Linked DNA regions of Homo sapiens: all the other regions are linked to region 2. The links come from fine-mapping of genetic effects on gene expression. A gene starts in region 2. Each other region holds a variant in brackets. All regions are shown on one strand. Distances are from middle to middle. Region 1 overlaps TGM1 (transglutaminase 1). Region 2 holds the start of GMPR2 (guanosine monophosphate reductase 2). Region 3 holds the start of LOC105370412 (a long non-coding RNA gene). Region 4 overlaps LOC101927045 (a long non-coding RNA gene).

Evidence for each region. PIP is the estimated chance that this variant, and not a neighbour inherited with it, causes the effect.
Region 1: its variant is the best candidate, but not a certain one, in a credible set for the expression of GMPR2 in whole blood (TOPMed, PIP 0.68).
Region 3: its variant is the best candidate, but not a certain one, in a credible set for the expression of GMPR2 in whole blood (TOPMed, PIP 0.74).
Region 4: its variant is the best candidate, but not a certain one, in a credible set for the expression of GMPR2 in whole blood (INTERVAL, PIP 0.73).

What each region holds. Positions count from the first base shown.
Region 1 is chr14:24,253,301-24,258,300 of GRCh38, reverse strand. It overlaps TGM1 (transglutaminase 1), which reads left to right. Exons shown (of 15, transcript NM_000359.3): 9 at 1-16; 10 at 2,224-2,312; 11 at 2,784-2,937; 12 at 3,048-3,329; 13 at 3,477-3,637; 14 at 4,013-4,149. Among named protein-coding and RNA genes, the nearest start is that of TGM1, 7.4 kb to the left of the region's middle. The variant C/G (reference allele first, on the strand shown) is at 1,951.
Region 2 is chr14:24,230,107-24,235,106 of GRCh38, reverse strand. GMPR2 (guanosine monophosphate reductase 2) reads right to left here and starts at 2,178. Exons shown (of 10, transcript NM_001002002.3): 1 at 2,130-2,178; 2 at 1,767-1,888; 3 at 1,509-1,628. The coding sequence starts at 1,853. NEDD8-MDP1 (NEDD8-MDP1 readthrough) reads left to right here and starts at 2,740. Exons shown (of 7, transcript NM_001199823.3): 1 at 2,740-2,857. The coding sequence starts at 2,840. It overlaps NEDD8 (NEDD8 ubiquitin like modifier), which reads left to right and starts at 2,740. Exons shown (of 4, transcript NM_006156.3): 1 at 2,740-2,857. The coding sequence starts at 2,840. RefSeq lists enhancers at 2,550-2,844, 2,011-2,876.
Region 3 is chr14:24,064,571-24,069,964 of GRCh38, reverse strand. It overlaps CARMIL3 (capping protein regulator and myosin 1 linker 3), which reads right to left. Exons shown (of 40, transcript NM_138360.4): 33 at 4,692-5,007; 34 at 4,215-4,343; 35 at 3,501-3,567; 36 at 3,309-3,398; 37 at 1,263-1,381; 38 at 999-1,179; 39 at 718-828; 40 at 236-586. The coding sequence ends at 561. It overlaps LOC105370412 (a long non-coding RNA gene), which reads left to right and starts at 1,776. Exons shown (of 2, transcript XR_943619.2): 1 at 1,776-2,869; 2 at 2,968-3,181. The variant G/C (reference allele first, on the strand shown) is at 2,424.
Region 4 is chr14:24,456,779-24,462,233 of GRCh38, reverse strand. All of the region lies in intron 2 of LOC101927045 (a long non-coding RNA gene), which reads right to left. Among named protein-coding and RNA genes, the nearest start is that of SDR39U1, 17 kb to the right of the region's middle. The variant C/T (reference allele first, on the strand shown) is at 3,399.

The sequences.
Region 1 (5,000 bases), 23 kb before region 2:
CAAGAGACTAGCAGTGGTAAGCTGGGCCCCCCACTCCCCACCATGCCCCTGCTTATCTCCCCCACCTGATTAACACAGTCCAGAGTGTCAGTGCTGGGCCGGGCCGGAGAGCCAAGCCATGTAACCCCGCGGCTTCTTAAACGGGTTTGTCAGCTGAACCACCACGTGGATGTTAGTTTATTTTTACCATTCTATATAACTCTCTATTTGCCTACATTTTACTTATTTATAATGGTTTATTTTATTTATAATGGTTAATATACAAGGGAGGTTCAAAATTCAAAAGCTGGAAGAGTATTCAGAGAAAGAATTCATATTCACTATTCTTACTTGCTTTTTAACTTACATATCCTGGAGATAATTAACTGAAGGACCATTTTAAAGTCATTTTTATAAGTAATACATGCTTGGAAGGAAAAAAAAAGTATAGAATTGAACAACACAAAATGTAAAGCTTCCCTATTCTCTCTCAGGAGGTATTTGGGTTTTTTTTCAAAAATATTTTTAAAGTAAATTTCTAGGTTCTACTCCAAACCTGATACATTAGACTTTCCCAGGATAGATGCTAACAATGTATATTTTTGAAAGTTCTTCTGGTGATTCTGACGATCAGCCGGATTTTTTGACCCACTCCAAAGGGTGGCCAGAGAGATGGAGTGACCTCCTCTGGGGCACAGAGTGGTAGGTCAGTGACAGAGCAAGTCCAGTCCTTTTAAGCACATACTCTTGCTTTCAACGAGTTCCTTCCTGTCTGTTCCATTGCTCACTGTGAGTTATATATACAGCATAGAAAAAAATCAGGGCTCAGATAGGTTCAAAGAAGAAAATAGCCCTTATGACCCTGCCTTAATATATAATTACTGTTAATATAACCAACGGGTCTCTTTTCTGTGTCCACATACATGTGTTTCTGCAGAAATTAGAACTACCATACACTCTGTTCTCAAACAAACCCCCACCCCTTCTTACCGTGATACCCCAGCCCCAGGCCACCAGGCCTGCCCTGCCAGCTACCTTCTGTCCAGCCTCTCCCTTACCCCAGGTCAGAGAGTCCTCCCTAGCCTACATTCCTCCCCTGGCCTCTTCCCAGTGCCCTCCCTCTCACTCAGATATGTGAACACAGCCCCATGAGCTGTGCAACCCGGTGATGCCTGTGATGCTGAAACAGCCTGTCCCAGACGCTGGCAGATCTGAGCTCTGGCCCCCAACTCTGGGAAGTGGTGGGGTGGACATCAGGCAGGGGGCTCAGGGCCAGCCAGACTGGGGCTTGATCCCAGCCTGATCACTTCTCAGATGTATGCTCTTGGGCAAGCACCTCGAACTTTTAGGCTTTGGTGGTTTGGATGTAATTTGGGGTAATAGATACCATATATGGTGATTGGGAGGATTAAATGAGAAATTCTGTATCTGAAGGGACCAGCAGCATGCCGGGAGTGTAGCAGCTACTCAAAAAGTCTGAGCTCCTTTCATTCTCCCTGCACCACCTGTCTTGTGAGATCCTGGCATGAACTTCACCTTGCTGTTTCCCCGTCTGTAAAGGAGTGTGTAGTGTTATGTCTTGTCTAAGATTCTTTCCGGTTGGATGGTACTCACTTACCACTCTGTCCTCTCTTGCCAGGCCTCTTCCTGTCAGCCTATCTCTTCTAGACAGCCTCCTGAGTATGATAAGGGCAGACTCTATTTCCCACCAGCTCCCCCCAGTAGAAAGGGCAGCAGGCTGCAGAGCTGAGGGTTGTTCCGCATCTCTCTGGAATGGTGGTGGCGGTGGTGTCCTCGCTCTCCCAGCCAGCAGGCAGGGCCACTGTGGACTCTGGGTTGGTTATGATAAAGGATGGGGCGTCCTGTCCTCTGGGGGTCACAGATGGTGGACATCCAGTGTCAGCCAGCCATGAAAGAGTATGTCAGGGACTTGGTTATCAGGCAGGCTGGTCCGCACATCTGTACCCTGCC[C/G]CCATCCTCCAGCAGAGCAGCCTGGGCTGAGGAAAGCAGATTGAGAGCCAAATGGAGCCGCTCTCTCTTTGTTTTCCATACCTGTGTTGCACTGGCTGTCAACTGACCCCCAAGTGTTTGGGTCAGGGCTGATGACCTTGTTCCAGAGGCCACCAGGCAGTGGGACCGGGCCTGAGTGGGTGGGGCTGGGGCCCTGTGTGGACCTTACCCAGGGTCTGAAGAGCCCTCTCCGCCTTCTCAGATCTCTTGCCTCTGTCCCGCCTCACTCTCTAGGCATCTTCTGCTGCGGCCCCTGCTCTGTGGAGTCCATCAAGAATGGCCTGGTCTACATGAAGTACGACACGCCTTTCATTTTTGCTGAGGTGAGGGCTGGGCTCCAGGTGCCTTCTTGGGCTTCAGTCATGGGTTCTCTGGTCCCAACTTCACCGCTGACTGACCAGCTCTGCGACCCGGGGCAAGTCACTCATTATACAAGTCAGTTTCCTCACCTGTAAAAGGGGATAATCAAGGCTGCCTTGCTTCCTATACTCGGGATCAGAAGAGATAACGGGTATGAAACTGCTTCACTAGTCGTAAAGTCAGCCATTGAGTGTGAGGGATTACTGATATTGCCAAAGTGCTCTGCCAGGAGCCTCCCAGACCAGCTTCTTCCCTGCACTCTGGCCTCGTCTGGCTCGTCTTGGAAAGTCTCCCCTTGGGCTCTGCCAGGAAGCTCCCACCCTTGGGACCAAGCCCTGTCCCATAGCTCCTGGGATCAGGGGAAGGAGGCCGGGAGTCAGGCCACCCTCAGACCCTCTGGCTCACTCATTCCTGCTCACCCCCACCCCCCACAGGTGAATAGTGACAAGGTGTACTGGCAGCGGCAGGATGATGGCAGCTTCAAGATTGTTTATGTGGAGGAGAAGGCCATCGGCACACTCATTGTCACAAAGGCCATCAGCTCCAACATGCGGGAGGACATCACCTACCTCTATAAGCACCCAGAAGGTACCATTCCCCCAACCCAGCCAGCTCTGGGCCCCACAACAAGTGTTCCTGCCAAGTGCTTGGCCACCCACGTGGGAATTGGAACCTCACCCTTGACCCTCAACCCCCAGGCTCAGACGCAGAGCGGAAGGCAGTAGAGACAGCAGCAGCCCACGGCAGCAAACCCAATGTGTATGCCAACCGGGGCTCAGCGGAGGATGTGGCCATGCAGGTGGAGGCACAGGACGCGGTGATGGGGCAGGATCTGATGGTCTCTGTGATGCTGATCAATCACAGCAGCAGCCGCCGCACAGTGAAACTGCACCTCTACCTCTCAGTCACTTTCTATACTGGTGTCAGTGGTACCATCTTCAAGGAGACCAAGAAGGAAGTGGAGCTGGCACCAGGGGCCTGTAAGTGCTCCTTACCCAGCCCTGCCCCCTGGATGGCTGGGCACCTCAGGGCTGTGGACATGGAGACCCCAGGAGCAGTGGGGAGTCCCTGGGGGAAGCCTCATGTAGGGAAGCAGGCCTCAGTGACGCCATGCCTCTTCTCCACAGCGGACCGTGTGACCATGCCAGTGGCCTACAAGGAATACCGGCCCCATCTTGTGGACCAGGGGGCCATGCTGCTCAATGTCTCAGGCCACGTCAAGGAGAGCGGGCAGGTGCTGGCCAAGCAGCACACCTTCCGTCTGCGCACCCCAGACCTCTCCCTCACGGTGAATGCAGTTTGCTGGGGCATGAGGGGTGGTCAGAGAGTGAAGGCCAGGGGATAAGGACATCAGAGGTGGGCGCTAAGCCAGCAGCAGGCTGGCCTGATGAGCCTTTGTAGGAGAAGGTCAAGGACCGGCTCTGGGGCCTCAGTTTCCTCATCTGTAGCATGGGATCTTATGTCTCTGGTTCTGTGACAGCCTTTATTGAGGAATAGGTTGGAGTTTCTTCTCTGACTTCTGGGGAATCTTCTCTCAGGAGGATAAATGTGGGACTCGGGGAGGTTTTGCTTCTAAGCAGCTTCCCCTCTCTGGTGCAGTGTACGGTCCCCGTGTGTTTGGCCAGGGTCTCTGACGTGGGGGATGGGCCTCTTTTTCTCTCAGTTACTGGGAGCAGCAGTGGTTGGCCAGGAGTGTGAAGTACAGATTGTCTTCAAGAACCCCCTTCCCGTCACCCTCACCAATGTCGTCTTCCGGCTCGAAGGCTCTGGGTTACAGAGGCCCAAGATCCTCAACGTTGGGTGAGTCTGGCCTCTCCCCCTACCCCTGCTTCCACTCTGGCCTTCCCCACAGGCTGCCCTGGCTCCCAGCTTTGCTCCCTCTCTGTCTGGACAAGTATGTTCTGTCAGGACCCAACCAAGCAGGTTGGGGCCAGCTAGCAATACCTCCCGGCCCAGCTCAGTCCCACCAGCCTTTAGGGAGACCTCTTGGGCACCTGGTGCTATGCCATGTCCTTGCCCTGCCTCACTATCTAATTAGGGAGCAGAAGGCCCACATAGGAATCATTAGTAACTCATTGCTAATATTTGCCCAGCACTGAAGAATTGACCAGGCCCTTTCAGGAATATTATCTCCTTTGGACACAAAAACTCTAATTTAAGTACATTAGAAGGCCAGGTGTGGTGGCTCACACCTGTAATCCCAGCACTTTGGCAGGCCAAGGTGAGTGGATCACTTGAGCCCAGGAGTTGGAGACCAGCCTGGGCAACATGATGAAACCCTGTTTCTACAAAAAATTTTTAAAAAATTAACCAGGTTTGGTGCTGTGCGCCTGTTGTCCCAGCTACTTGGGAGTCTAAGGTGGGAGGATCACCTGAGCCTGGAGAGGTTGAGGCTGAAGTGAGCCATGTTTGTGCCACTGCACTCCAGCCTGGGCGACAGAGTGAGACCCCGTGTGTCTCTCTCTCTCTCTGTCACACACACACACAGACACACACACACACACAGAGACACACACACACAAGCGAAGTTTTGGAATCCTAATGATACGGGTTCAGCTCTAGCACTTACTGGCTATATGCCCTTGGGCAAGCGACTTCTCTCCTTCAAGCCTCAGTGTTCTCACCTGTAAAGCAGGGATAGCAATAGCCCC
Region 2 (5,000 bases):
ATCAAACTCATATTCTCTAGCTCAACAGATTGCAAACAATATCCCAATACTTTGAGGAAGGCATTCAAAGGCCATTGTGTATGCTGGTGTTTGTGCCTTACATGTCTACATGCAAACAGACAAGAGACAGCAGTTGGCTGAAACAGCACAAATCTTGCAACTAACAAGAAACCCAAGGAAGTCATGTATTAGCTAGCAACAAGTGCTCTACATACGTACTCAGAGATCAACAATATCTAGCTAAAGCTGGTATTGAATTCTGCTTTCTCAACAACTCTATCATCAACATACTGATAAGCAAAGAAAAGTCACCATAGGATAGGAAGTCAGCAGATGTTGGAGATATACTGGCAGAGTGTGGCATGATGAGCACATCAGATTACATACCAAACTTAGAAAAAGATGTTTGCTTGCATCCAACCTTTTTATTACAGTAAGACTTGGCTCTTATCTCTAAAACCTGATTTCTTTACCTCTCGTCAGCAATACTGAAAGCCAGGCTCCACATAAAGCATCAAGACAGTCCCCAAAAAGGTTCATGTATTACAGCACGCCTGTTAACTCTGCAGTCAGAGTCACCAATTCTGAACTCTACTGGTCAGGGCAGATGGACAGTGGGCAACAGAAAGATTCCTAAGCAGTTACTGAATGGCAATAAAAATAAAGTAAAAATAAAACTGCATAACTATCAACCTTAAAGAAATGACAAGACATTCCACAAAGACACAGCAATCAAAAATAGAAAAAGGATATGAAGTCCTTAAGACTAATGGAGCCACAAACAATAGCAGAATTCATCAACCAGGGCTACATGGATCAACCAGCAGAGTGCATATGTTCTCAAAGTGCCCAGATAACTCTCTACCTTCTCAGCAACAAGTATAGAGGCAGGTAATAGTACTGACAGGAGCAGCATCTTCCATTTCAAAGTGAACAACTTGTATATAAGAAAAACACATCCCATTTGGGGCACATCCCAGAAACTCCCAGGAACCTAGGACTTAAAGAAGAGGAAGATTAAAAAAAGAATGGCAGAAGTATTCTTTTATTAATGAATTGTTCTTATTAAAGAAAATTAATAAGCTGCTTCTCCTAGGATCTTCTAGTTAGGATTTTTGAATGCTTAAACTGTAGTTTCTGGACTAAAACAGTGAATGCTTAATGTGGACAATCGCATAACTGAAGGGATGCATGTGACTGTGAGGGGGTGACCTGGGTGGTGGGAAAAGTTGGCAAGGTGTACAAACTGCTAAACAGGACAAAAGGGAAAATTCTGTTCATATATCAGAAATATCGGAGCAGAACTTAGCTTTGAATCTCACTAATTCAGATGGCCTTTTGAACTTATCAGATAAAGGGCTTCAGTAGTGGAAAAAACCGTAAATCAGAGCATCCTGACTGCTAACTGCCAGAGAACTGACTGGGCATGGGGGTGGGGATGCAAACACCTCTGCAGTCAGCTGGGCTAACTGGACACCAATAGGGATGGGGCATGAGGAAAGCCCTACCTTACAGAGAACCTTGGCCATCTCAAAGGTGCCCACAGTATCCATATTGGCAGCAATGATGGGAACCCCAGAGTATGTCTGCTTTGAGTTCCGAAATGAAAAGGATCTTGTGAGATCCACCTGCAGATATGAACAGGAAATTGACCATTTCATTAATCCAAAAAACGTACCATATTAGGACAAGGACAGGCATCTTTCTTGGTTGTGGCCCACCGGGAGCGTGGGGTCAAGAAACAGCAAGTAGAGAAGCTTGCTCACCTCACTTCGAGACTTAAGGGTACTGCGTTTGGGCCTCAAAAGGACATCCTTGAAGTCCAGTTTCACATCGTTGTCAATATGAGGCATGGCGCTTAGCCTCGGGGTAGCGATGAATCTGAGGGCTGGAAGGCAGGAAGTCATAAGGACCAATCTTCCCCTGGGCTTTAACGCCCTGTTACGGCTGGTGGCCTCTCTTCGCTTAAGTTGTGGAAGGTCGGGCAAAGGCCGAAGTGTGGTCCCTGAAGCCTGTCACCTCGACCCATCCCGTGGCTGCGATTACCCTAGGGCTCCATCCCAGGTACTGTTTGTTGGGGAGGAGAGCTGGGAAAGGGTTGTGAGAGACCCTGACGGTGCATTCCTTACCCCGCTACACTTCCTTCTTCTACCCCTGCAAAGAGCAATGGGGCAAGAGGCTGATTTAGGGGAACGAAGGAATGTTGGCGACGGGGGGCGGGGAGGGTTCATAACTAGTTTCCGGAATAGAGGTACTCACTTCCTGTTGCCTTGGTCCAGGCGGCAGTTGACCAAAGACCACCTTGCTTAGCAACTAACCTCGTGCAATCCCGCTAAGCCTTCTGGGCCACGCCAACAGGTTCCTCTAGTTGCCGGCGAGAACTACTAGCCGACGAATTCCAGCTTCGGCGGCGGCAGGGCGAGGCCTTCTGGATAACAGAGTTCACGCACTGAGGTTGCTGTTGGATCCGAGGGGGTTAGACTACAACTCCCAGGGGGAAACGGGCGGGACCGCCTCCTGGCACGATGGGAGATGTAGTTCGTTCTGCCCCCACTTTTCGCTAGCCCGGGCTCGCCAGGGACTCTCAGAATCGCAGAGTCGTCATCTCTGCTGTTGCTAAACTGGATGCCTCATTCCAATTTACGACGTCACTGAACCGAAACGCGGGAGCAACCCTGAGCCTTTCCGGAACCCAGTGGGGGGGGGGGGGGGGGTGGAGCCAGACAGTGACCCGGAAGTAGAAGTGGCCCTTGCAGGCAAGAGTGCTGGAGGGCGGCAGCGGCGACCGGAGCGGTAGGAGCAGCAATTTATCCGTGTGCAGCCCCAAACTGGAAAGAAGATGCTAATTAAAGTGAAGGTGGGAGCACCTCCAGCCTTGCCAAGACGCAGTAGTACTGGGCTGGCAGCAGTGCCTTACGGGAGACGTGGGGAAGGAAAACCACGCCTTTCCCTAGCCTGGAGGACGCTGACTGCCTCAGGGCTCCGCGCGAGGGGTGGTGGGAAATAGGGGGACCCAGAAGGGCTTTGAGAGCGGGGCCCAGGTCCCACCTGACGACCCTGGGGTATTTTGCCATGCCTGCTTTTTTGCCAGGACTGTGCTATCACCCAGAATGGGGTCGCTTTTGTCGGGTCTCACTGTATTCGAACCCCCGCAGTCATAGAGAAGGCCTAGCAGCGGCTTGACTCCCCCGTCTCTCAGATTCTTGGAGTAAGCGCTGCTCTCCATTCTTCATTCCCAGGGTACCTGCTTCTCCCAGTCCCTAACGTAGGTCGCCTCCGAGCACAGCCCTAAAATCGGGGCCTCCCAAGGGCTAGACTATGAGCCTTTACTGGTGGTTGCCAAGGTGTGGTATCTCACCCGTCCTACAGGAACCAAAGCGGGGAGTGTGTTCAGTCAGTACCTGCCTTTCTGAGCCTGGCATCCTGGACCAGCCTCACTTCCTTGGCTGAGGCAGGTTAGTTACCGCTGCCCTAGTTCTTGCTACTAGCCATGGTTTCCTTCATCTGCATCTCTCAACTCCCGTGGTGGTTCTTCACCAATTTCCAGCCCTCGTTAGTCCTATCTGCTGTTTCCTCTTTTGTGCCTTCAGACAGACAGAGACCCCCCCCCCCACGCCCCCCTCAAAAAAACAAAACTGCTGACAAGTGAAGTCTAATGCTAGTTTGGCCTTTTTGTAGCTAAGTAAATCTATCGTTATTTCATCAGCTTCTTAGCATATTTACCGTACATAATAGTCATTCTTAACCTTCTCTTCCCCAGTCCTTCCAAACTACTTCTTAGCTAAGATTTGAGGTCTAGTATTAAAATAGTATGTTAAAGATGATTTTTTTTAACGTTGAGTAGCGGCCTATATAAGAGTCGTAACATCAATTTAATAGGTGAATGGGTCACTGGCGCCATTAAAAAGAGAAAATAGGCTGGGCGCGGTGGCTCACGCCTGTAATCCCAGCACTTTGGAAGGCCGAGGCAGGCCGATCGCTTGAGCCCAGGAGTTGGAGACCATCCTGGGCAACATGGCGAAACCCTGCCTGTACAATAAATTCAAAAAATTAGCCAAGGGTCTGGGCGCATGCCTGTAGGCCCAGCTATTCGGGAGGCCGAGATGGGAGGATTGATTGATCCTGGGATGTCGAAGCCGCGGTGAGCAGTGATGGCACCACTGCACTCCAGACCCTGCCTGAAAAAAAAGGCCGGGCCCAGTGGCTCACGCCTGTAATCCCAGCACTTTGGGAGGCCGAGGTGGGTGGATCACCTAAGGTGAGGAGTTCAAGACCAGCCTGGCCAACATGGTGAAACCCCGCCTCTACTAACAATACAAAAACTAGCCGGGCGTGGTGGTGGGCGCCTATAATCCCAGCTACTCGGAGGCTAAGGCAGGAGAATCCCTTGAACCTGGGAGGCGGAGATTGCAGTGAGCTGAGATGGCGCCATTGCACTCCAGCCTGGGCGACAAGAGTGAAACTCCATCTCCCCCTGCAAAAAAAAAAAAGAAAGAGAGAGGGGGAGAAAATAGGAAATAATATAGTGCTAGGTAAGGATATTGTTTTATGATTTTTTTTTTTTTTTTTTTTGAGACAGAGTCTCGCTCTGTCGCCCAGGCTGGAGTGCAGTGGCGCCATCTCGGCTCACTGCAAGCTTCGCCTCCCGGGTTCATGCCATTCTCCTGCCTCAGCCTCCCGAGTAGCTGGGACTACAGGCGCCTGCCACCACGCCCAGCTAATTTTTTTGTATTTTTAGTAGAGACAGGGTTTCACCATGTTAGCCAGGATGGTCTCGATCTCCTGACCTCGTGATCCGCCCGCCTCTGCCTCCCAAAGTGCTGGGATTACAGGTGTGAGCCACCCTCCCCCGTGCCTGGCCTTTTTTTTTTTTTTTTTTTTTTTTTTTGAGACAGAGTCTCACTCTGTTGCCAGGCCTGAAATTTTTTATTTTATTTTATATGTATATTACACAGGGGGTGTTACTAGTTCATACTAATTTTTAGAATGGATCACTGTCA
Region 3 (5,394 bases), 170 kb after region 2:
TCCAGGAAGCTCAGCCCTGACCCTGGGCATAACACCCATCTTGGCTTGGGGACTTATCAGTCCCCTTCCCTCGGCAGTTCTCTGTTTTTTTCTCCTGCTCCTCTCAGAACCCCAAGTCTATCCCTGTGGAATGTTTCTCATTTTTCTCCACTGTGGCCAAGCTCTGAGGGTTTGTGGGAAGAGAGCAGATTGTGGAGGCAGTGAATGGGGAAGATAGCAGAGACTCGAGGCAGGCGATGATTTTGTTTTTTTATTCTATACAAGAGGGGAGAGAGTCCCTGGGGATAGAGGGACAGAGATCCACCCTCCTGGGGGAGGAGATAAGCCCCCACCCAGAAGCTCTCTGCAGAGAGAGGTATCGAGGCAGGCACTGACAGCCTCCGTCTCTCCAGGTGGCTCCCTCTGTTCTAGTCCCTGCCTCCAGCTCCCCCATGCCTGGTCCTGCCGTCTTGCCCCTGTAGGACAGGGGCTGGCAGGGGGCCCTGGGGACTGGGGGTGGATAGGGGTCTGAGTCCTTGCGAGGCACATGTCGAGGGCTGAGGAGGGTGTTGTGGCAGTTGTCAGTCTGTTCCTGGCTCACTGGTTCCTGCTGGGGACAAATCCAGGGAGCCCTGTTTCCTGGGCAGGGACAGCCAGCCACCTGGTGTTGGGGCTTCGGGGGGTGTCATGTTGGACAGATAGGTGGGAAGGGGGGACCTGCCCTCTCACCACCAGCACCTGTGGGGTCAGGAGGCCGTCTTCTATCAGGTTCCAGCTTGTCACAGGACTGTGCCCGCCGTGTCCTCTTGGGCTTCAGGGGGGCAGTCCGCCGGCCTGGATCAGGGGGCCCTGAAATAACAATCAAGGCAGGCCTAACACAGGAGTGGGGCTCATGCTGGGATGCTCATCCAGGCTGTGACTCCTGGTTGTCACTCATTCCATGCTCTGGAAGAGGACCTGATGTGGACAGCAAAGTCCTAGAGGTGCCCTGAGCCCCCCACTCAGCCAGGGTGGCAGACCTTGGACTTCGGGCTCCTCTTGGTCTTGCTGTGAGCTCAGCCTCAGCCGGGGTTTGTTGACTCCTGGAGCTGCATCTCCAGCCTCAGCCTCCTCCCTGACCCCTGGCTCCTGGGGAGGCTGGCGGCCCCTGGGCACAGCCACTGGCTTGGGAGGCCATGGAGCTAGAGCGGGGTCCTGTAGCTGGCAGAGGAAGGAAGATGCTGGGTCAGTTAGTCCCTTTGCCTCATCAAAGTGCCTCCCCCACCCATCTTGCCAGCTCTCACCTTGGCATTCCTAGCTGGAAGTGTCCTCTCTGGGAAGAGGGTCCCCTCCTTCTCCTCTTCCCCATCTTGGGAGGCTGGGCTGGGACTCTGGCAGCTGTGGTTGGGGGCACTCTCTTCAGCTGGGGATGAGAGAGAGGAGAAGCTGCAGGAAAAGGCATTCTTGCATAGCTCCTGTCCCTGTCTCCTCTCTCCACTGAAGCCCTGGAGGCCAGGACTTTCTCCCTCCAAGCCCACTTGCTCCTATGTCTCTGCCTTTCATGTGCCTTTTTTTTTTCTTTTCTTTCTTTCTTTCTTTTTTTTTTTTTGGAGATGGAGTTTTGCTCTGTCACCCAGGCTGGAGTACAGTGGTGCAATCTTGGCTCACTGCAACCTCCACCTCTCGGGTTTGAGCGATTCTCCTGTCTCAGCCTCCCGAACAACTGGGACTACAGGTGCGTGCCACCACGCCCAGCTAATTTTTGTATTTTTAGTAGAGACAGGGTTTCACCGTGTTGGCCAGGATTGTCTCGATCTCTTGACCTAGTGATCCACCTACCTCGGTCTCCCAAAGTGTTGGGATTACAGGCATGAGCCACCGCACCCGGTCTTTCATATGCCTTTCTACATCCACGCTCCTTAGCCCTTGTTTCCCAGGATCATCCTGAGGCCATCACCTCTGGAGGGGACTCTGGCCTAGCTGTCCCTCTTGCAGAGCAGTGCCCAACCCCTTTCCTGCTGGGGCAGGGCCCAGGGCCTGCTGGGTCCACAGGCATGCTGCCCATCCAGGCTGCAGTGCCCTGGGGGCTCTGCCAAGGCTGCAGCCTGGCATTCCCAGAACTCTGTCTGAAAGTCTGATTTAGATGGAGGGGTGCCCTGGCACACTCATCCTCCGCCCCAGTGGCCTTTAAGCAACATGAGCCTGTGGCTCTGACACTGGAAAGTGTTGTCTGCATGTGGATCTGTGAGGTGTGTGTGCAGTGGGGCAACTGACTATTGCGGTTTCCTAAATGAAAGATGGAGCCCTACTTTGGGGCGCTTTAATTAGCCTGTGTATGGGATGGAAAAAATCAGCAAAGATGCCCCCAGTGCTGGGTTGGCCTTGGAGGAGGAGGCAAGGACACAGGCACTCCAAGTCTCAGGCTAGCCTGATTCTGCACTACAGGGGAGAGAGGGGCAGATGCA[G/C]AATGGGTGGGATAGGACAGTGGGGAGCATGTGGCTCAAGCCAGACCAGCCCGCTCAGCTCTTAGCTCTTTCCAGCCCTTACGCCCTAGCCTGGTGGTGGGAGTGAAAGAGGCTGAGGGGGTGTCTCCATCTACAGAGAGATTTTGTCTATGTCAATATTGCTGGAGGGTCATGGTCCAGGCCTTTGGCAACTGCTGGACTGAGCGAATGCTGAGCTGACCAGCTTTTCTTTAGTGGCTCCCTAAGCGGAAGGTGCTCTGAAGCCAGCAGAAAGGAAGTGTCATGCCTGGGATAATCCCCTCCCTTTTACTCCTCCGGTCATGGGGCCAGAAAGTAAATGACTTGTTTAAGGTCGCGGGTGGCTGAGAAGGACTAATACTGCAGGTTTCTGACCTCCGAGGCGAGCTCTTGCCCATGTTTGGGGCACCTTTCTGCGTGAGCTGAGGGTGAGTTGATAAACGACTTCTGGAGGAGGCTGGAATCTGAGGTGGGCCTGGCACAGCTGGTACTTGCTGGCAGTTTGACTTGCCCACCCTCTTCCCAGCAAGGTGCAGAGAGGAGCCTTGTCTACAGAGGCTGCCACTGTGCCAATGGTGACCAGAGGCTGCACCTGCCCTGGAGAATTCGCCAGAGCCATCCACAAAGCATCGCTCCTGTTTGCCAACACTGGAGAAGCCGCTTTTGTTCTGTAGAAGCTTTCTTTGGATTGGGTTGTTTGTCTCTTTTGGATATAGCTTTGTAAATATCCTTAAACATTTTCACTGTGTTGACTTCTCACTGCCCCACCTTGGCCATAAATTCCCCAGCACAGGGGCCATGGGCTTCTGTTTCTTTGGACACACCCTGGGCTTTCAGTACTGCTGCCTGAAAAGAGGCTTTCCATACCTATGTGCCATGTGGCCTCTGCTCTGCGCATGGCGCTGAAGCTTGGTTTGGTGCTTTGGGGCGGTGGTGGGGGCTTCCAGGATCCAGGCCCTGGAGTAGAGAGAGGGGATGAGAAAGAGAGGAGAAAGGGAAAAGGTAAATTTGACCCCTGAGAGAGGGGTCCAAAAGGGCTTTGAATGTGACTGTTCTTACCTGCGTCGTCTGAAGAGCGCCGTTTCTGCCAGGCCTGGGTGCTGCCCTCCTGGTCTGGGCCTGGGCCCTGAAAGAACAGTGGGTCAGGTTGTAAGAAAGTCTCCTCTGTGGCAGGACTGCAGCTGACAAAGGGCTTCTGCTCTAGCATCTCCATGTCATTCTCATGTCATTAGTCCCTAGACACTTAAAACTGTTTCCCAAAGAGTGGCACCCATACCTCCCCAGGGGCACAAGAAATGGCTTACACAAATGAGTATACTTCCATCTTTATAGTTACATATGTATTTTACATGTAGTAGAAAAAAACACGACTCATTCAAAAAGCCTGCGATTTTAAAGATAATGTCTAGGTCTAGCCTAAGTTAAAAAAAGGTGAGTTAATTTAAATAAAAATACTATGTAAGTAATAATTCAGGTAAAAATCAGTCGCAAAGGTTATAATCAAGTCACCATTGTTTGGGAAACAGAGCTCTAGAGGTAAGTATTTTTATAACCCCTCATTTTACAGTAAAGAAGGAGAGGTTTCAGGAGGTGAAGTGACCAGTCCAGGGCTCCACGGCAAGTGTGTGGTGGGGGCTGAAGAGCAGCTAACATCTTCTAATGCCAAAGCATCTGCTTTCTCTACTGAACCACCAGGGATGAGGGAGTGGGAAGGAGAGGGTGGTGGACAGATACCCTCAGGACCCACAGTTTGTTGTCCCAGGCTCCACTCACCTCTCGTTTCCCATCGAAGCTCCAACCCTTGGCTCTTTCCAACCCGGGAAGGGCAACACCGTGAACCCTTGGCTGCTGTGCTGTCCCAGGGGCTGGGCCCCCCTCCCCTGGCTCTGACCCCTCAGTGCCCTAGAACAAGGTCTCTTATTTATTAGCAGTTCCCAGTCGAAGGGGGCTCCCCAGGCTGTGAGGGAGTTGTCAGGAGGACCCCTGCCTCACTGAGTCCCTAGCCACGGGGAAGCCCTGCAGAGACCCTCTGAAGAGTCCTTCCAACGCCTGCATTCGCATATAGCACTCCCAGCATGCTCTTGGCCACTGGGTCTTAGTCCACTCTCAAGGAGAGGAGAATTGAAATGACCAATGTTCCCAAGAACCCTGGGTCCTAGCATTCTCCCATTAAGCTTGGGGTGGGGTAGGAGACTGGGTTAAGTGTGGGGCAGGAAAAGGGGAAGACACAGCACCCCCTGCCTCACTTACCATCTTCCGGCGGAAGGAAGGTCCCCGGCCCCCACCAAATCCAGGGAGGAGGCTGCTCTCCTCCTCTGGGCTCCAGCAGGGAGAGGAGTTATTGCCGAGGCTTGGGGGGTCTGGGCTAGGGGGGCTCTCCTGAGTCGGGGGAGGGGGTGGGGGTGGAGGGAGGAGGAGTCCAGTGGTAGGGGACCCCGGCCCCCTGTCCCCCTTGAAGCTCCGGGGCCGGCGAAAGTGAAACAGGCCCCGGCGCCTCTTCTTCTGGAGTGGAGGCAGCGGTGCCTCCGAGAGTCCTGGCCGCACGGTCCTCAGAGTCCGGGGGTAGCTGGGGAGAATCGGGGTAAGTTAGCAACAAATGCCAGATGCAAGCTCAATCCTGGGTCTGATAAACCTGCTTTCCTCTCATCTGGTCTCCCCTGCTGCACTGCAGCCCTTTCCACTTAGTTCTCAGGGAGATGATGCCCTTGCCTTTCCTGTCCCGTTGTAATCCTCCAGCAGCCTTTCCCGCAGACTGATGTTTCTTCCCAGGCACCTCCCCTGCAACTCCTCTCAGCTTCTCCAAGTGACCTGGCTCCTCCTGGACAGACCCTGGGCAGTCTGCAGGACAGTGACAGGGAACACTACCCCCCGGGCCTCTCACCACTAATGGGTATCCTGTCCCAGGGCTGCCCCCCACCTCCCTCTCATCCACACCTGCTCTCCAACCCCACTG
Region 4 (5,455 bases), 230 kb before region 2:
ATTTTAAATATGCTGGTCAATAATGTCTAATAAGACATTTGATTAGAGACCTGAAGGAAGTGAGGTCTGGGAGAGCCATGTGGCTATTTGGAGGCATGGCATTTCAAGCAGGGGAATAGCAAAAAGGCCCTGGGCAGAAGCAAGTTTGTCACGCTATACTGAGAAGCCAGTGTGACTTGGGCAGGACAGGCAGGAGGTGAGGTCATATAGACAAGTGAGGACAAAATCACTGGGGGTCTCAAGGGTCCCCTGAGATCTTATAAGATCTTTGGCTTTTATTCTGAAACCAGAATCCATTGGAAGACTTTGAGCAGAGGAGTGGCATGATTGATTTAAGTTTTTATAGGGATCGCTCCGTCTACCAAGTGAACAATAAATTCTAAGGGAGCAAGAGTTAGGGCAGAAAAACCAGTAAGGAGGCCCTTATGATGATCCAGACAAAGATGCCATTAACTTGTACCAGATGGTAGCTGTAGTGAACATGGTGAGATACCTAATTATGGGTTTATTGCATGTATGGATTTCTTTTAGAGATAAATCCAACCATTCCTGCTCATGGATCAGGGGGAGTTAATGATGACTCCAAGTTTTTTATTTTGACCTGAGCAAATGGGAAAACTACACTGCCATTTGCTGAGACTGGGAGAACCAGCAAAGGAACAAGTTTGGGGCCATGGAAATCAAGAGAATGGTATGGGGTGTGTTAAGTTTAGATGGCTATTAGTCATCCACATACAAACATTGGGTAGGTAGTTTGATATTTAAGCCTAGAATTCAGGAAAAATATTCAGGCTGGAGTCAGAAACTTGGGATTCATTAGACACTATTCAAAAACCTGAGATTCATACTAAGGAGTGAGCCTACATGGAGAAGAGGCCCAAAGACAAAGATTGCAGTATGCCAATGTTTAGAGATCAGGTGACAGTCAAAGCCAGCCAAGGGGACTGAGCTGTGGCTAATGAGGTAAGAGGAGGACAAATCATGTCCTGGAAACCAGTGAAGAAAGTGTTTCCACTGAAACAAATGTTGCAGAGAGGCAAAGTATGTGGTGATCTGAGATCAATGAATTTAGCAACATAGAGGTCACTGACAAGAGCTGTTTCAACAGAATGGATGAGAGGCACTAAGCCATGCTACCTCTGTAGATGGAACCTAGCTTCTCTTCAGAGATTTTATTTCCCCTCAAAGTTCTTCAGTCTCAAAAAAGTGAAGTCCCCATGCTGTGTAACAGCATTTCATCTAAGAATCAATACTCTGGCCTTTGCCTGGATGTGGAGTCCTGTGAACAGTCCATAAAAGGTCCTGGTTGTAACCTTCATCCCCACAATCCACACCAGGCACCCTGAACCTCTCAACTCCACCTTCAAGCCACTAGTTACATCCTCAACTTCAGTGCCCCAGGGATCCTACACAGATCTAACCTGGATACTGAGCCCAGGGCTGTCTCTTAATTATTTAGAGTCTAAGCCTTGGGGACAACCTCTGAGTCCTCTCTCTTCCTCTGTTGTCATGGCCACCCCCTTATCCTCTCCTGTCATCTTTCTTTCTTCTCCATCATCTCCTTCTCTATCTAATCAAGTATTCAATGAGATACCTCAGTGACGTAGTGACCTTCTGTCTAAACTCAGCAAAAATTTCATGCTGGTTGTGGTCCAGCCTCCTGTAGCTGGGTCTGGCCTATGTTGATCCATGGAGGAGAAGATGGACTAGCCTACATCTCCCTCCCTAGGAACCCCTCAGGTTGCCAACTGCTGAATGGTATAACGAAATGTGAGCTGAGTGGGTAGAAGACGCATGAACGCAAAGATAAAGCCAGCTCTGGTGATCACTGCCTCAATCCCCCAGGGCCACAGACAACAGACTTTATCCTGTGTCTTCATGACACACACACGCATCCACATGCACATGTGCCTGAGGATTTCCAAGCTGCCTGATCTCCACATTTACTACCATGAGTGCCTGATTTAATAGGTCCTAGTGACAACAACTTTATTATATCAGAGTGCAGGGAGAAAATCAGGCCCAGCCCTCATCATCTCTGCTGTGCGGAGGGGTGTGAGAAGTAGCATTCTGCCAGCACAGAGCTATCCAGCACCTGGGAGGCCCTGTAATTGAGTGTCTACCATGAGAAAGGAGCTGGAGAAAGCTGACCTTCCCTGCAAGCACCTGCTCATATCTCCCTGGGTCCCTTCCCCAGAGCCCAGCCTCCCACTACCCCCAACTCATGTGGGGCTGAGTAGACTGTAGGGAAAGGGCCACAGCCACAGTGGAGATGGAGAAATACATTCTCCATAGATTAATTTCAGAAGGGCCTGTGCTGGGGCCAGGGGAAAACAGACCCAGGAGAAGCCTCCCAGTGGCCATTTTACAGCACAGAGCCAGACAGTGGCAAGAGACTGCAGCCAGTAGCCCTTCCTCTGAGTGAGTAGGAAATGGAATTGCTGGGCTGGTGAAGCCTCTGGTGGTGCAAGAAGAGCTGCTCATGCTAAACAGTTCCTCTCAGGTCCAGCCTGGCCAAAGACTAACATCATTATCTATCTATCTATCTATCTATCTATCTATCTATCTATTTAGCTTTCTCTCCCCAGCACTGTCAGAGTATGTAAGAGGGCATTTCTCATTCACTGCCCTGGAAACTAAGAGCAGAGAGACCTCAAGGGCACTTGTTCTCCACAGCAGGTCCTGGCCAACAACGGAGGGTACGGAGCTGATGCTGGAGGCTGGCCAGGTCTCTCAGCTCCTACAAAAGGTCCCACTGGGAACAGATGTCTGGTTAGGGGTCAGACTAGGGATGGGGGCATCTAAAAGTCTTAGTGGAAGGGAAAAAGAAGAAGACAAGGTGCAGCCCCTGGAGAAGACCTGGCATCTCCACAGACATCGAGGTTCAGGAATGCTGTTCCTGTGGCCCCAGACCCTGAGGTCAGAGCAGACTATCTTATAAAAAGGAAGGGAGATTTCTAGGATCCTTTATCCAATGTGTCTCCAGAATTAGGATTTTGGTTGGTTGGTCGATTAATTGGTTAGTTGATTGGTTCTACCATACAGTAACAGAAATATGTAAAATGGTTATGTGAATAGCATTTGGCAAGTAACATCTCAGAGCCTGAGAGAAGTCACAAAAATCTATTCCAACAAAATGAAGCAGGGAACATTCACACAGGTGGCATTGGGAAGGGGCAGAGGCACTTGTCACCAGCAAATCCCCCATCCCACTCTGCCTTGGCCCAAGCTGAAGAAGCAGCCAGGATCCTTCTCTGACTTTTTATCCTGCCCCGCAGGGCTGGCCTGATGCCCCAGAGGTTGACTGAGCTCAGCTCCTTTTGTTGTTTCAGGAAGCAGCTGTGAGGAAAACAGTCCCATTTCAAAGTACTTGTGATTGCTGCAGACCCAGGAGGAAG[C/T]CTTTTCTTCCCAAAGGGAAAGCCAGCTGCACTTGCCCCTAAGCCCAGATGTGCAGATGAAAATTTCTCATGTCTTGTTGTCTAAGGTTTGAATGTTTTAACCTCCAAAGTGTCAGATGGACTCTGAGAGCTGCAAAAAGTTTAACTAAAATAGTTCAGTTGCTAAAGGAGAGGCTGAGGAGGATGAGAGAAGTTGACCCACCCATCCCCAGAACCCAGAAGAACGACAGCTTTAAGGAGGTTGGATGGAAAGCTGAACACATTCAGACAGAGCCTGCTCTCCATCAGCCTCCCTGGAGATGAGGGGCTGGCTGCTGCAATGGGAGCTCTGTCCCTATGTACCTCCTCTTCGCAAGGGGTGTAAAGCTCTGCAGGAGGTTTCCATCTCACCTCCTTGAGGATATTGATGGACATCCACCCTCTTAAATCTATACTCTAAAAGGCATGTAATTTAGTGGAACCCTCCCACTCACCTCTCACCTTCTACAGCACAACTCCCAGCTCACTGGAAGGAAAGACATAGCCAGGAGAGAAAGGAAGGAATGTCAACGTTGTTGAAGAGAGGAGGAGTTCCTTAACACCTCAGGGGCTCAGCTGGGTTTCCACAGTGGAGGACAGTGAGTGGGGCTACCCCACCCCTGGTCCAGCAGTAGACACACGACTCAGGCCTGGCCAGGCAGAAAACTCCATACTTGGCCACAATAGTTGGTTCAGAGATGGCACGAGACCCATAACAGTCCAAGAAGAGTCAGTTCTGACATTCTTTATGGAATTAAGAGAAATAGTTACTCTGCTGGAAATAGAAGCCAAGAATTCATTCTCACTCTAAAGGGAGAAAATCTTCCTGAGAATGAAGTCAACCAACAAAAAATAAGAGCTGAGAATTAAAAAGATGTGGATCCTTGATGACATTATGTAAGCACCTGGATCTAGCCATGTATAAAGCCAGTTTGCTTTGCAATATTACCCAACGTATTTTCCCTCTCAGTACTTCCTTTTCCCTCTGCAGTGTAAGGGAACAAATCCGACAAGCCTTAGTTTTGACTCTCAAAAGCAAGTTGTTTTATTCCATATCTAACTAATAGCCTGGAAAGGAGGAAATTCAAGAGCAAGGGTTTTGTTGAGAGAAGACCAAGCATGGAATTTGTTTTATAAATCAGAGGGTAGGAAAGAAACTGGCTATGATGTCAGAGCAGTTGCCCATTACCTAGCTTTCCCTGGGCTTAGGGAAGGAGCTAAAAGATTTGGAGAGAACATAACTAGATTATAAATGCTGCCTGAACTCTCTGAGAAGGAGCCTAGCTAGGGAGGTAAGGAGAGATGCTTGAAAACCTGGAGAGGTAAAAGAGGCATCTAAAAATAACAAGGATTGTACCACAATTCCCAGGCACAACTGAGAGAGTCTACAAGCATCTCAGAGAAGCCCTAAATGCAGCACAGAGCTTGTGTTGGTTTTAAAATGTGCCAACAAATTATTTGACTCTATTCCCTTTAAAAGTTTTACAGCCAAATTTCTCACCCCTTCAACTCAGTGACTCACATCTAACAAATAGATTGTGATAAAAGTAACTGTATGTTACACTGAGATTAGATTAGTCATTAGAGGTATTGAAGCTTTCTCCTCATTCTCACTCTCTTGAATCACTCACTCCAGGGAAGCCAGCTGCCATGTCATAAGGATACTCAAGCAGCCATGTGGAGAGGTCCACATGGTGAGAAACAATCAGCAAGGAATGAAGCCTCCTGCAACAGCATGTGAGCAAGGCTTTTTGAAAGAGGATCCTCCAGCCCCAGTCAAGTATCCAGATGATTGCAGCCCTAGCTGATATCTTGAGTATAACCTCATGAGAGACTGTGAGCCACACCTCACAACCACCGAGCTAAACTGCTACCATATTCCTAACCCACAAGACTGTAAAAGATAATAAATACTATTGTTGTTTCAAACCACTAAGTTTTGAGATAATTTGTTAACAGCAACATATAACTAGTTCACAATAAGGTGCCTGAGCAGTAATGACTGTGAAAAATTACCAAGAGGTGAGCCTGAGGGGACC